2 separate regions of the Homo sapiens genome follow, and region 1 is linked to region 2. The links come from fine-mapping of genetic effects on gene expression. Tissue or cell type: whole blood. Region 2 holds a variant in brackets; the other region holds the start of a gene. All regions are shown on one strand. Distances are from middle to middle.

What was found. PIP is the estimated chance that this variant, and not a neighbour inherited with it, causes the effect.
Region 1: DNAH10 starts here. The variant in region 2 is fine-mapped to the expression of DNAH10 in whole blood (TOPMed, PIP 0.96).

The regions. Positions count from the first base shown.
Region 1 is chr12:123,758,409-123,764,297 of GRCh38, reverse strand. It overlaps DNAH10 (dynein axonemal heavy chain 10), which reads right to left and starts at 1,997. Exons shown (of 79, transcript NM_001372106.1): 1 at 1,748-1,997. The coding sequence starts at 1,961. It overlaps ATP6V0A2 (ATPase H+ transporting V0 subunit a2), which reads right to left. Exons shown (of 20, transcript NM_012463.4): 20 at 2,543-5,889. RefSeq lists a silencer at 1,997-2,416.
Region 2 is chr12:123,895,123-123,900,122 of GRCh38, reverse strand. DNAH10 (dynein axonemal heavy chain 10) reads right to left here. Exons shown (of 79, transcript NM_001372106.1): 55 at 2,156-2,353; 56 at 1,309-1,470. Among named protein-coding and RNA genes, the nearest start is that of DNAH10OS, 37 kb to the left of the region's middle. RefSeq lists an enhancer at 797-1,297. The variant C/T (reference allele first, on the strand shown) is at 3,082.

The DNA of each region.
Region 1 (5,889 bases), 140 kb after region 2:
ACGTGATCACGTGGTCCTCTCTCCAGATGGCACTAGGGATTTGTTATTGTTGTTTATTTATGGTTTTGGATTTATGATGAAGGCGTTTTATTTTGTGCAAGCAAATAATGAATATTTAAAATAAATGAAGGTGGCCAAGCGCGATGGTTCACACCTGTAATCCCAGCACTTCGGGAGGCCGAGGTGGGCAGATCACTTTAGGTCAGGAGTTCAAGAGCAGCCCGGCCAACATGGTGAAACCCTGTCTCTACTAGAAATACAAAAATCAGCCAGGCATGGTGATGGGTGCCTGTAATCCCAGCTACTTGGGAGGCTGAGTCAGGAGAATTGCTTGAACCAGGGAGGTGGAGGTTGCAGTGAGCCGAGATTGCACCACTGCACTCCAGCCTTGGCGACAGAGCTAGACTCTGTCTCAAAAAAAAAAAAAAGAAGTGGCCAGGTGCCAGATGGCTAACACCTGGAATCCCAGCACTTTGGGAGGCCGAGGCGGGAGGATCACTTGACCTCAGTAGTTTGAGACCACCCTGGGCAACATGGTGAAACCTGTCTCTACCAAAAATATAAAAATTAGCCAGGCATGGTGACGCATACCTGTAGTCCCAGCTACTCAGGAAGCTGAGGTGGGAGAATCACTTGAGCCCTGGAGGCAGAGGTTGCAGTGAGTCAAGATCGCACCACTGCACTCCAGCCTGGGTGACAAAGTGAGACCCTATCTCAAAAAAAAAAAAAAAAAAGTTAAAAAATAGAATACAATAAATGAATCTGCCTGGTACCTTTAAAAAAAAAATCAAAGGTCTGCCGGCCCTGCCACCCGAACCCAGTGAGAGGCCCTGCAAGGGATCCCCAAGTCCTTAAGGGGCTGGAAAAGTAGCCCAGGAGACTGGACAGCCAGGCAGGAGGTCCCGGTAGCTGTGCTCCAGCTGGTGCTCCTGCGAGGAGGCGGCTTTCGAGGTCCCAGTCTCCTTCTAGCTGTTTCTGAAGCGAGTTGTCCTGCCTCCTCCTCTCACCTGTGCTGGCCCCTCCCTGCCCTCTCAGTGTCCCTGGCCTATCAGAGAGTAGGTGGGGCTGGGGATCCGCCTCCACAGAGGGTTCTGGGACCCTGGTCACTGTCTTTTTGTATTTGCGATGCTAATTTGTTCAACATAAACATTTAAAGTCTACTGTAGTTTTTAAACTTTGTCCTAGCCTTATTTTACTTTTTAGGATATAAGGAGCCTCCAGAAGTAGAAAGGGGTGCTCTTCGGACCCTCCGTGAGAGGCTGCGACCGTCAAGGAGAGTGACAGTGACCTGGGTCCCTGCCACACCTGGGCATGGCTCTACCCAGCCGTTCGGATTATTGCACAGTGGATCTTGACGCCCCGTGGGCCTTGGGCAGGTTACTTAACCCCCTCCGTGCCAGTTTGCTCATCTGTAAAATAGGGATGAGGATACACCCGCCTCGTAGGGTTAAGGAGTTGATACAAGCGTTGGAACCGCACCTGGCACGGGGTGCGGGCTAAGTCAGTGTTTGCTGTGATTTTTCAATCAAGGCCTGACTTTCAAGTGGGCTGTGGGCCCAGGAGGGCAGGGACGGCTGTGATTGCTGGGTTCGCCCGGGGCCTGCACGTGGCGGGCGGCAGCGTTTGTGGACAGCACCTGAGGCCGGGGCCGGACGATGGGCAGGCTCTAGCAGCCCCGGCGCCCGCCGGAGAGGCCGGGACGGGCAGGAGGGAAGCCCGGGGAAGGGAGCGGCGCGTCGAGGCTCACCAATCTCCACCTCCACCTCCTCCGGCACCATAGTGCGGTAGATGAAGAGCGCCGAGGGCCCCTCCTCCTCGCTCGCCTGGTTGAGGAAGTGCAAGATGAGGTCCTCGCCCTGGCCGTCGTCGCGGTTGAGCAGGTCCTCGAAAAGCTGGGGGTCGGTGATGCCGAAAGCCGCATACACGCGGTCGCGCATCCACAGCACCCGCAGGTCGTCCATGGCGCCGCGCAGTGCAGAGGGAGCCGGGCGCAGGGCGGGCGTCCGTGGCAACGGCGGCCCTAGCAATGGGCGCCCCGGAAACGGCCGCAGCTCGCCCCGCCGACGGCGCCGGCGCTGGGGGCTGCAAGCTCGGCAGTGCCCCGCGCCCGGCCCCTCGATCCCGAACCCGCGAGCCGCAGCCCACGCCCCGGCCCCGGGATCTCGGAGGCGCGCACCAGGCCCCCGGGCCGCCGAGGTAGGCTGGTTGCTCCCTGGCCCCGGCAGCGCGCACGCCCCTGGATGCGGAGCGGGACCCTCGCCGCCAGGAGCCGCCCTCGGGCCGCTGCAGCCGAGGGTGCGACCCCACCCCACGCCGACCGGTTTGCAAGCAGCCCGCCCACCTTGCAGATGAAGCTGGGGCTAGAGAGTTGGCGAGACGAAGGTCACAGCACCTCGGCGGTGGCAGAGGCGGGATTAGAGGCCAGACGAGGAGGAAATAAGCCGAGAAAGCACGAGTTCCTCATGGCCTACAAAATCAGGGAAGGAGCAGAGTTCTTTAGCTTTCTTGCCAAACTAGAGCATAATAAAGCAAAACACCCACGTTTAAAAATATAGATATATTTATTTGTCATTAGCAAAAGGAAGTTAAATACTGATAGAAGATGCAAATTTGTCCTTTCATGCATTTGTGGAGCAAAGTACTAACTTGTTCACTGTCATTTCCCCTCACAAGGAGTTGAGCCCCTAGATGACTCAGGCTAACCCTAAGAACCTACCTAGCCTTCTTAGATATTCCCATCAAAGAACAGGTGGAGTGTACTAAGTATTTCTGAAAATTCTAAACCAAATCAGCAAAAATGGCCTGACTGTGGGAAGACTGTTCGTTCAAACTGCCTTATTCCCATCATCTTGATTTGACAGCTTCATAATAACCTTCCTGGATATATTCCCTGTGGCACGCAAGCAAACCCGGCTTTACGTTTTTAATAGAGGAATTTATTGTTTTAAATGCGGACTGTAGAATAGGTGTAGAAGTTGTTTTTCTTTTCCAAAATGTATCAGGCTCTAAAACGTCTGAATATGTAATTCATGGACATCGTAAGGCTGACCTATGCTACAGGTATTCTGTGCCTTATTAAACAACTGCAGAGGGCCAGGCGCGGTGGCTCACGCCTGTAATCCCAGCACTTTGGGAGGCCAAGGTGGGTAGATCACCTGAGGTCAGGAGTTTGAGACCAGCCTGGCCAACATGGTGAAACCCTGTCTCTACTAAAAATACAAAAATTAGCCGGGCACTGTGGCAGGCGCCTGTAATCCCAGCTACTCGGGAGGCTAGGGCAGGAGAATTGCTTAAACCCAGGAGGCAGAGGTTGCAGTGAGCCGAGACTGCACCACTGCACTTCAGCCTAGGTGACAGAGTGAGACACTGTCTCAAAAAAAATAAAAAAATTTTTAAATAAACAACTGCTGAGGGGATGCTGACACCAGAATGTTGTTATAAAATATCCATTCCAGAAACAGAGCAGCATTCAGCGAAAGAGGAGTTCCAAGTCCTTTCGCTGCTGGAAAGTCCGCAGGGCTCACCCAGATCCTATCAGACAGAACACCCTTTGCACTCCTTAACTGACCACGGCAATTACAGTCTCCAGCCCAGCAGGTTGAATCAAAGTCTAGTTTACTGAAGAAATCCCTTGGGTTTTAAGATTCTGTTAACACATGGTAATAAACATCTAAATAAAAACTGAGAAATGTCGTGTCGTGACATTTATCTTTAGGAAAATAAACATATTCAGTATCATCCACACAACTTGCCATCTGTGCTCTGGATCTCTGCTATCAAGGGAATGAAGTATGTTTTAAAAACTGGATACATAATAGGTTCTAGCAAAAGCCTTAACAAACAAAACTGAGCGATAACTCTGGTAACATGACACTGGAGCCCATCGCTTTATAGAGAAACAAATTCCCGTGGCCCCTATAAGACACTATTATCAAACTACATTTCCAGAGAGCGCTTTCCCAGAGTTAGGATTCTGAATTCGCTTTTCATATAATGACATTCTACATAAATACTACATAGATTTCAACAGAGAAATGACTGCATCCTCTGCTCTATGCTGAGAAGAGGTGTTAATTAGAAAGAGTTAAAAAAGTGGCCCCATGAGAATTACTAGTGGGGAGCAGTAAACAATTCCCGTGAATATCGTGTCCCTTATTTACCAATCAGCTAACAGTGCCCTGAAGTCTTGGGCTTCCTAGGGATGAAGTAGTTACCATTGTTTTTATGACAGACCCCTGGAGCAAAGTAACACAAATGTCCCCTTGTGGAAGCATCAGCTCTAGGTGAAAGCAACTCTGAGACCTGACCAGCACTGCTGGGATGTCATAGTCACCCAACACAAGTGCCCGACATGACACCTTTCTAGGGAAGCATAACTTTGAGAGCAGAATCATTTTCAAGCATTTCATCGGCATCATTTGATAATTTAATATGAGGGACAAAAAGCAGTAAGTCCAAACTGGCCTTGGGTAACATCTCATCAAGTAGCACACAGAATCTGTACTGTAATTGAAAGGGTTTAATTGTAAGTCACGGCTGTGTCAACGCTGTTCAGCTCATGCCTTGAAATCAGCTGCACAGCCACGTTAAACTCAGCACCTCCAGACTCTCAGCTTGTAACAGAAGTGCCAAGCTCTCTACCTCGAAACAGGATAGAGGAGGATGCGGGCAAATAGCCTTTTAACGTGTATCACTCACAATGTCAAGAAGGTGAAAAAAAGTCAGGTTTCTTTTTGAAAATAATTGTCTAAAATCAAACTAAAATATGAAAAATTAACATAATTTGCAAGAATATAGGTCAAAATGTTCAATAGGACTGACTCAAGTTCACAAAAAACCAAATGTCAAACAGATGAATTTAAACTAAAGATTATAAAACAATGGCTATTAAGAATTAGTTTTCAACTGATCTAAACAGTGTTTGAAAGTTTAAATTAACTCAATACTTTTATCAGAACTTTAGCTAGAAACAGTCTGAAAGTAAAAAAAGTATCATTAGACTGTTCTCAAGGATAAGTGCAATCTCTTCATGGTAAAATATCTTCATTTATATTTAGACTGTTCTCAAGGATAAGTGCAATCTCTTCATGGTAAAATATCTTCATTTATATTTTGTTACAAAAATATACAAAATACTACTTTTTACCTTTCCTTCACTCAGTATAAACCCTTCTGGTTCAGTGACATCAGCCAAGCTGTCACTAAATTCAAATCATGTCCGCATTATATCTTCTACAGTCACACTGGGTTTTAAGGCTCAGCATACAATTTATCTTCCAAACATACAATTATCATAACTGGTTTTATGTAAGGGTAACAGGATAAGAGTCTTTAAAAAAATATACAAGTGGGATAACCATTTGTTGTATGTCATTTTATCCCATTGTCCCCAATTACTAAAACAAGACAAAATTGTAAAAACAATCCTCTACTTGTAATTCTAGGTAGCACAGGATAAAAAATATTTGCATATTTTGGCCAGGCATGGTGGCTCACGCCTGTAATCCCAGCACTTAGGGAGGCCGAGGCAGGTGGATCACTTGAGGTCAGAAGTTCGAGACCAGCCTGGCCAACATGGTGAAACCCCATCTCTACAAAAATACAAAAAAATTAGCTGGTCACGGTGGCGCATGCCTGTAATCCCAGTTACTCGGGAGGCTGAGACAGGAGAATCACCTGAATCCAGGAGGCGGAAGTTGCAATGAGACACGATCGTGCCATTGCACTCCAGCCTACGTGACACAGCAAGACTTCATCTCAAAAAAAAAAAAAAAGTACATATTTTTAAATCCAGCAGAATAAATGTGAATGTTTTGATTACCCATCATTAAATTTTTTAAAAAACTATCCCTACTTCAGCTGTTGGAAAATATTATCTGGCAACTTCAG
Region 2 (5,000 bases):
TATTCTTAGCAGACCAAAGGGAGAGAAAGAGCAAGTTACTGCAGGACTCACACAGGCATGAAGAAGTGATGCTGTGAGCAGGCGACAGGGTGTCATGAGAAATTAGGTAGGCAAGATGACATAGAGGGATTGATGGGACCCTTCACGGCCACAGTGAGGACTCAGCATCAAAACAGGCAGCAGGGATATGCCACAAATTCCTGGGAAAGGATATCTATCGATTAAGTTGCTTTGGTTGCAAGCAACAGAAGCTAATGATGGTCGAGTTAAGAAAAACGTGAAATTGTTTTAAGAAGATATGGTAGCTCACAGACATGGAAGATGCTGAAACACATAAACTAGAGGCGCCTCAGGGATCTGGGCTCGGGCACTGAATGCAGTCTCTTCACGGCGCTGCTGTGCAATGAATGAACACAAATAATCTTCAGTCTTTATATTGGCTGATTCAAAATGTGCAGTCCCAGAGAACATCTAATTGGTCTGTCAGGGTTAGAATAAGCCCATCCTGATGGCAGGCACTGGGAGTCGGGGAGAGGCAGTTTGCCAACACCAAGTTAAGGTGCTGTTGCCAGAGTGATGACAAATGGATCCTGTGCACAGGGCCGGGTGCAATGACAAAGGAACTGAACCGAGATGACACTTAGCAGCAACACGAACACGGACCAGCAGGAGAAGGAAGAGGCAGGCAGGTTGAGCGGCATCTGCAGGAATCTGGGAACAAGCTGGGGAGGGTACACATCAGAAGCCACTGGCCCAAAGACCTAGAGAGGAGGCTTAGAGGCCAGGCACAGAGCTGTGGGCTGCAGGAGCCGTCCTGTGCCAGGCATCGCGAGAGGGTAGAGTCGTCAAGAGCAGGACAGTGCAGGTGACACAGAGGCTCGGCCAAGAAGACCGAGGGAAGGGGCCCAAGAAAGAACCTTGAAACAGCTTCAAGAACCAAGAAAGTCCCGCGTCGATGGTGCCAAGGCTTAGGTCATTTCAACCCCACGGACTTAGTTCACCAGCCCATAGAGGGTCGAGTGACTTTTCCACTCCCCTGAACATCCTCAGGCTACCAGCGCAGGGGCCTACATATGGTAGCTTCTCAGTGCTTATGAAAGGGGACAAGACTGGCTGGACACGAATTCAGAAAGAAAACAGGAATTGCAGGGTCAAAGATGGCACGCTCAGTGCCTACAAGCAGTTTCACAGGGACGGCCTGGCAGAGCCCTGTCCTGCTCGGGATGGGCTGCCCTGGCCCCGCCCTCACTCACCTACGGTGGGTATTGGGTGTTGGGGATGGGCTGCCCTGGCCCCGCCCTCACTCACCTACAGCGGTGTTGACGGCGATCTCCTCCAGCAAGGCCTCGCAGGCGGCGGACTTCTCCGCCAGCACGATCTTCTGCTCGGCCAGCTTCTGGTTCAGCTCGTCCAGCTGGATGGTGGCCTCCTTCAGCTTGTCCAGTCCCCCATCCAGACGCTTGCACTGAGCTGAGGAAAGAGGGCACCTATGTTCATCGTCGAGGTGGCCACTGTTCGCAACACAATCACTGAGATTTGCCTAACTTCAGCTTATCAAAAACAAAACAAAACATTTTTACAAGATGGCACATGTCTTTCAGTACCTCCACTGCCATACTTGGGACAGCATCAGCCAAAATGAATGTATTTCTGAAGACAGTGCTTCCCTTGGCCAACAGCCAGAGCACTTTTTAAAAAGCCCTGTCCGGCAGTGCATGCTGCTGCAGCAGATAGTTGTCTCTAATGTGCGCCAGGCATGGTGGCTGCACCTGTGGTCCCAGCTACTCAGGAGGCTGAGGCGGGAGGAGCACGTGAACCCAGGAGGTCGAGGCTGCAGTGAGCCATGGTTGCACCACTGCACTCCAGCCTGGGAAACAGAGACCCTATCCCTAAGATAAAAAATAAAATTTAAAAATTGCTAATGTGATCAAAATGTAAAGCTTCAAAGTCTAAGACTCAACACTGAGAACAAAAATAAGGACATGCCAGGGTCCTGCCCACATGAAAGAATCGCTCCAAGACACAAAATCCAAGATGTGCTTCGTTTGGCCTCAATACTGAAGATGCCCCATCTTACTAAAGAAAAGATCAGCGCTCGAATCCTTACCCATAAATAATAATGACTTTTGTCAACCACCCCATCCCCAAGGCTTACCTATATTACACTGAGTTTTCTCATCCAGCAATTTTGAATAGGTGTTAATAAAATCAAGGTAGTTCTTGGGAGTGACATAGTTGCTGCGCCTCAATTTCTGTAGAAACTGTTGGCTGTAGTGGTCCACGGATTGGTGAACCAAGACAACATGCTTCACCACATTTTCTATATTTTCTGCCGGGATCATTGGATTATACCCTGAAGAGGAAGGAATAAAAAATGTTTTCTTTCTTTTTCTTTTTCGACACAGGGTCTCACTCTGTTGCCCAGGCTGGAGTGCAGTGGCGTGATCATGGCTCACTGCAGCCTCCATCTCCTGGGCACAGGTGATCCTCCCACCTCAGCCTCCCAAGTAGCTGGGACTACAGGATGGGCCACCATGCCTGGGTAATTTTTTGTATTATTTTGTAGAGGTGAGGTTTCACCCATGTTGCCCAGGCTGGTCTTAACTCCTGAGCTAAGGCAATCGGTCCACCTCAGCCCCACAAAGTGCTGGGATTACAGGCGTGACTCACCGCACCCAGCCATGCTTGTTAAGAAAGGAAAACAGGGATTCTTCAAAGAGTTAAATATAGAACTATTATATGACTCAACAATTCCACTCCTAGGTATATACCCCAAAGAACTGAAAAGCAGGGACTCAAATGAATTCTTGTATGCCAATGTTTACTGTAGACTATCACAATAAGCAAAAGGTGGAAAGACCCAAGCGTCCAGCAACGGAGGAATGGATGAACAAAATGTGTCCTATCTATACCGGGGATAGTATTCACTTGTAAAAAGGAATGAAGTTCCGATGCTGAAACACGGATGAGCCTCAAAAACATGATGCTAAGTGAAAGACGCCAGACACCAAAGGACAAACATTGCATGATTCCACTTATACGAACCCTCTCTAGAACAGGCAAATTCATACAGACAGAACA[C/T]AGATTCGAGGTTGCCAGGGGCTGGAGGGAGGGGCGATGGGGAGTTCGTGTTTAACGGGTATGGAGTTTCAGTTTGGGATGATGAAAAGTTTTGGCAACAGACAGTGGTGTTGGTTTCACAACATTACGAATGTGATTAGTGCCACATGTACATTTCAAAATGCTTAAAATGGAAAATGTTATGTTACATATATTTTACTACAATAAAAAAATGATGTTAAAGTTTTTAATAGGACAAGAAAAGAATGGCTATCACTTATTGGTGGCTTTTCAGGGCCACAGCAGTGATCCGTGCTAATCCTTCTTTTTTTTTTTTTTTTTTCTTGAGACAGGGTCTCACTCTGTTACCTAATTCCTTCCCTACTGTTAGGAAGCCCTGTCTTCCCTAAAGGCCAAGACACCGTGGCAGAAGGGCCTTGGGTTTTCAGAAGCGATCACCACGTCTAACTCTGCCCTGTTGCTCCCCTCGCCCGCCCGAGGACTGGGTGGGCTTATTCGGTTACCCACCGCTGGATGACACCCAGCACATATCGGCAAAGGTGGGCCTTCCTATACACCCGCTGAAAGAATGAATGATGGCTTCCAGTGTCAAGATCACATCACCTGGATTATCTGATAGGTTGTTAAATGCATTCAGCTCAAAGCAGAGAATGTCTCATATTAAAATGGAGGAAGGAAAGACAGATTGAAAGTACCGATTAATCCAGATTCTGCAGAGCTGGTCCTGAGTTACTCCGGGGTTAGCAAAACACAGCCCCAGGGCCCATTTTACAGTGTGCAGGAAAAACGGTGCCTCACAAATATCTGTGCCTTTGGGCATAGTCATCTCAATTCCAGGGAATATATTCTCTCTCTCTCTCTCTCTCTCTCTCTCTCTCTCTCTCTCTCTCTCTGTGTGTGTGTGTGTGTGTGTGTGTGTGTGTGTGTGTGAGATAAAGTCTCACTGTGCCTCCCAGGATGGAGAGCAGTGGCACAAACTCGGCTCACTGCAACCTCTGCCTCCTGGGCTCAAGCAATTCTCATGGCTCAGCCTCCTGAGTAGCTGGGATTACAGGTGCCCACCACCACACCCAGCTAATTTTTGTATTTTTAGTAAATACAGGGTTTCACCATTTTGCCCAGGCTGGTCTCGAACTCCTGGGCTCAAGTGATCCACCCGCCTCAGCCTCCCAAAGTGCTGGGATTACAGGTGTGAGCCACTGCGCCTGGCCTCCAGGGAGTATATTCTAAGGACAAAAAAGTTCTAAGCAAATTCTAGGCAGCATTATTTATGATGCTGAATCACTGAATACTGAAAGCAAACACAAGCACTTCACACATGGAAACGGCAAATACGCCTCTGAGAACAAGGGGACATCTATATTGGGGCTGGCCAACTACGGGCCAAAGGACAAATCCAGCCCGCCCCCTGTTTTTGTAAATAAAGTGTTATTGGATCACAGCCATAGCGATTCATTTACGTATTGTCTATGACTGCTTTCATGATAAAATGGCAGAATTGAGTAGTTGCGAAAAAGCTGTAAATATTTACCATCTGGACCTGAGATATATCATCAGAAAAGAGTCATTCTCTTGGCCCCTTTTCCCCCAAAACTGCATTATGATTAAAGTTATGATTTCTTCTTACATATAGGAACATTTATTTATTTATTATTGAGTACAGATTTAGAAGGTTGAAACTATTTTCAAGGTTACCCAGTGTCATTCATCATAAATCTGCTCAAGTTAGGTCAAAAGAAAAAGATGTTCCCTGAAGACAGACTTCCTTTCTTATTCAAACATTAAAATTAATATCCAAGGCCTTAGGTGTTTGAAACGCTAGAAATTCAATGAGAATGCAGAATGTTTGCTGAATTGTCCTTGGAGCATTCTTTGGATAGAGGCCAGCACATGTTTTCTACAAAGAGCCGAACAGTACT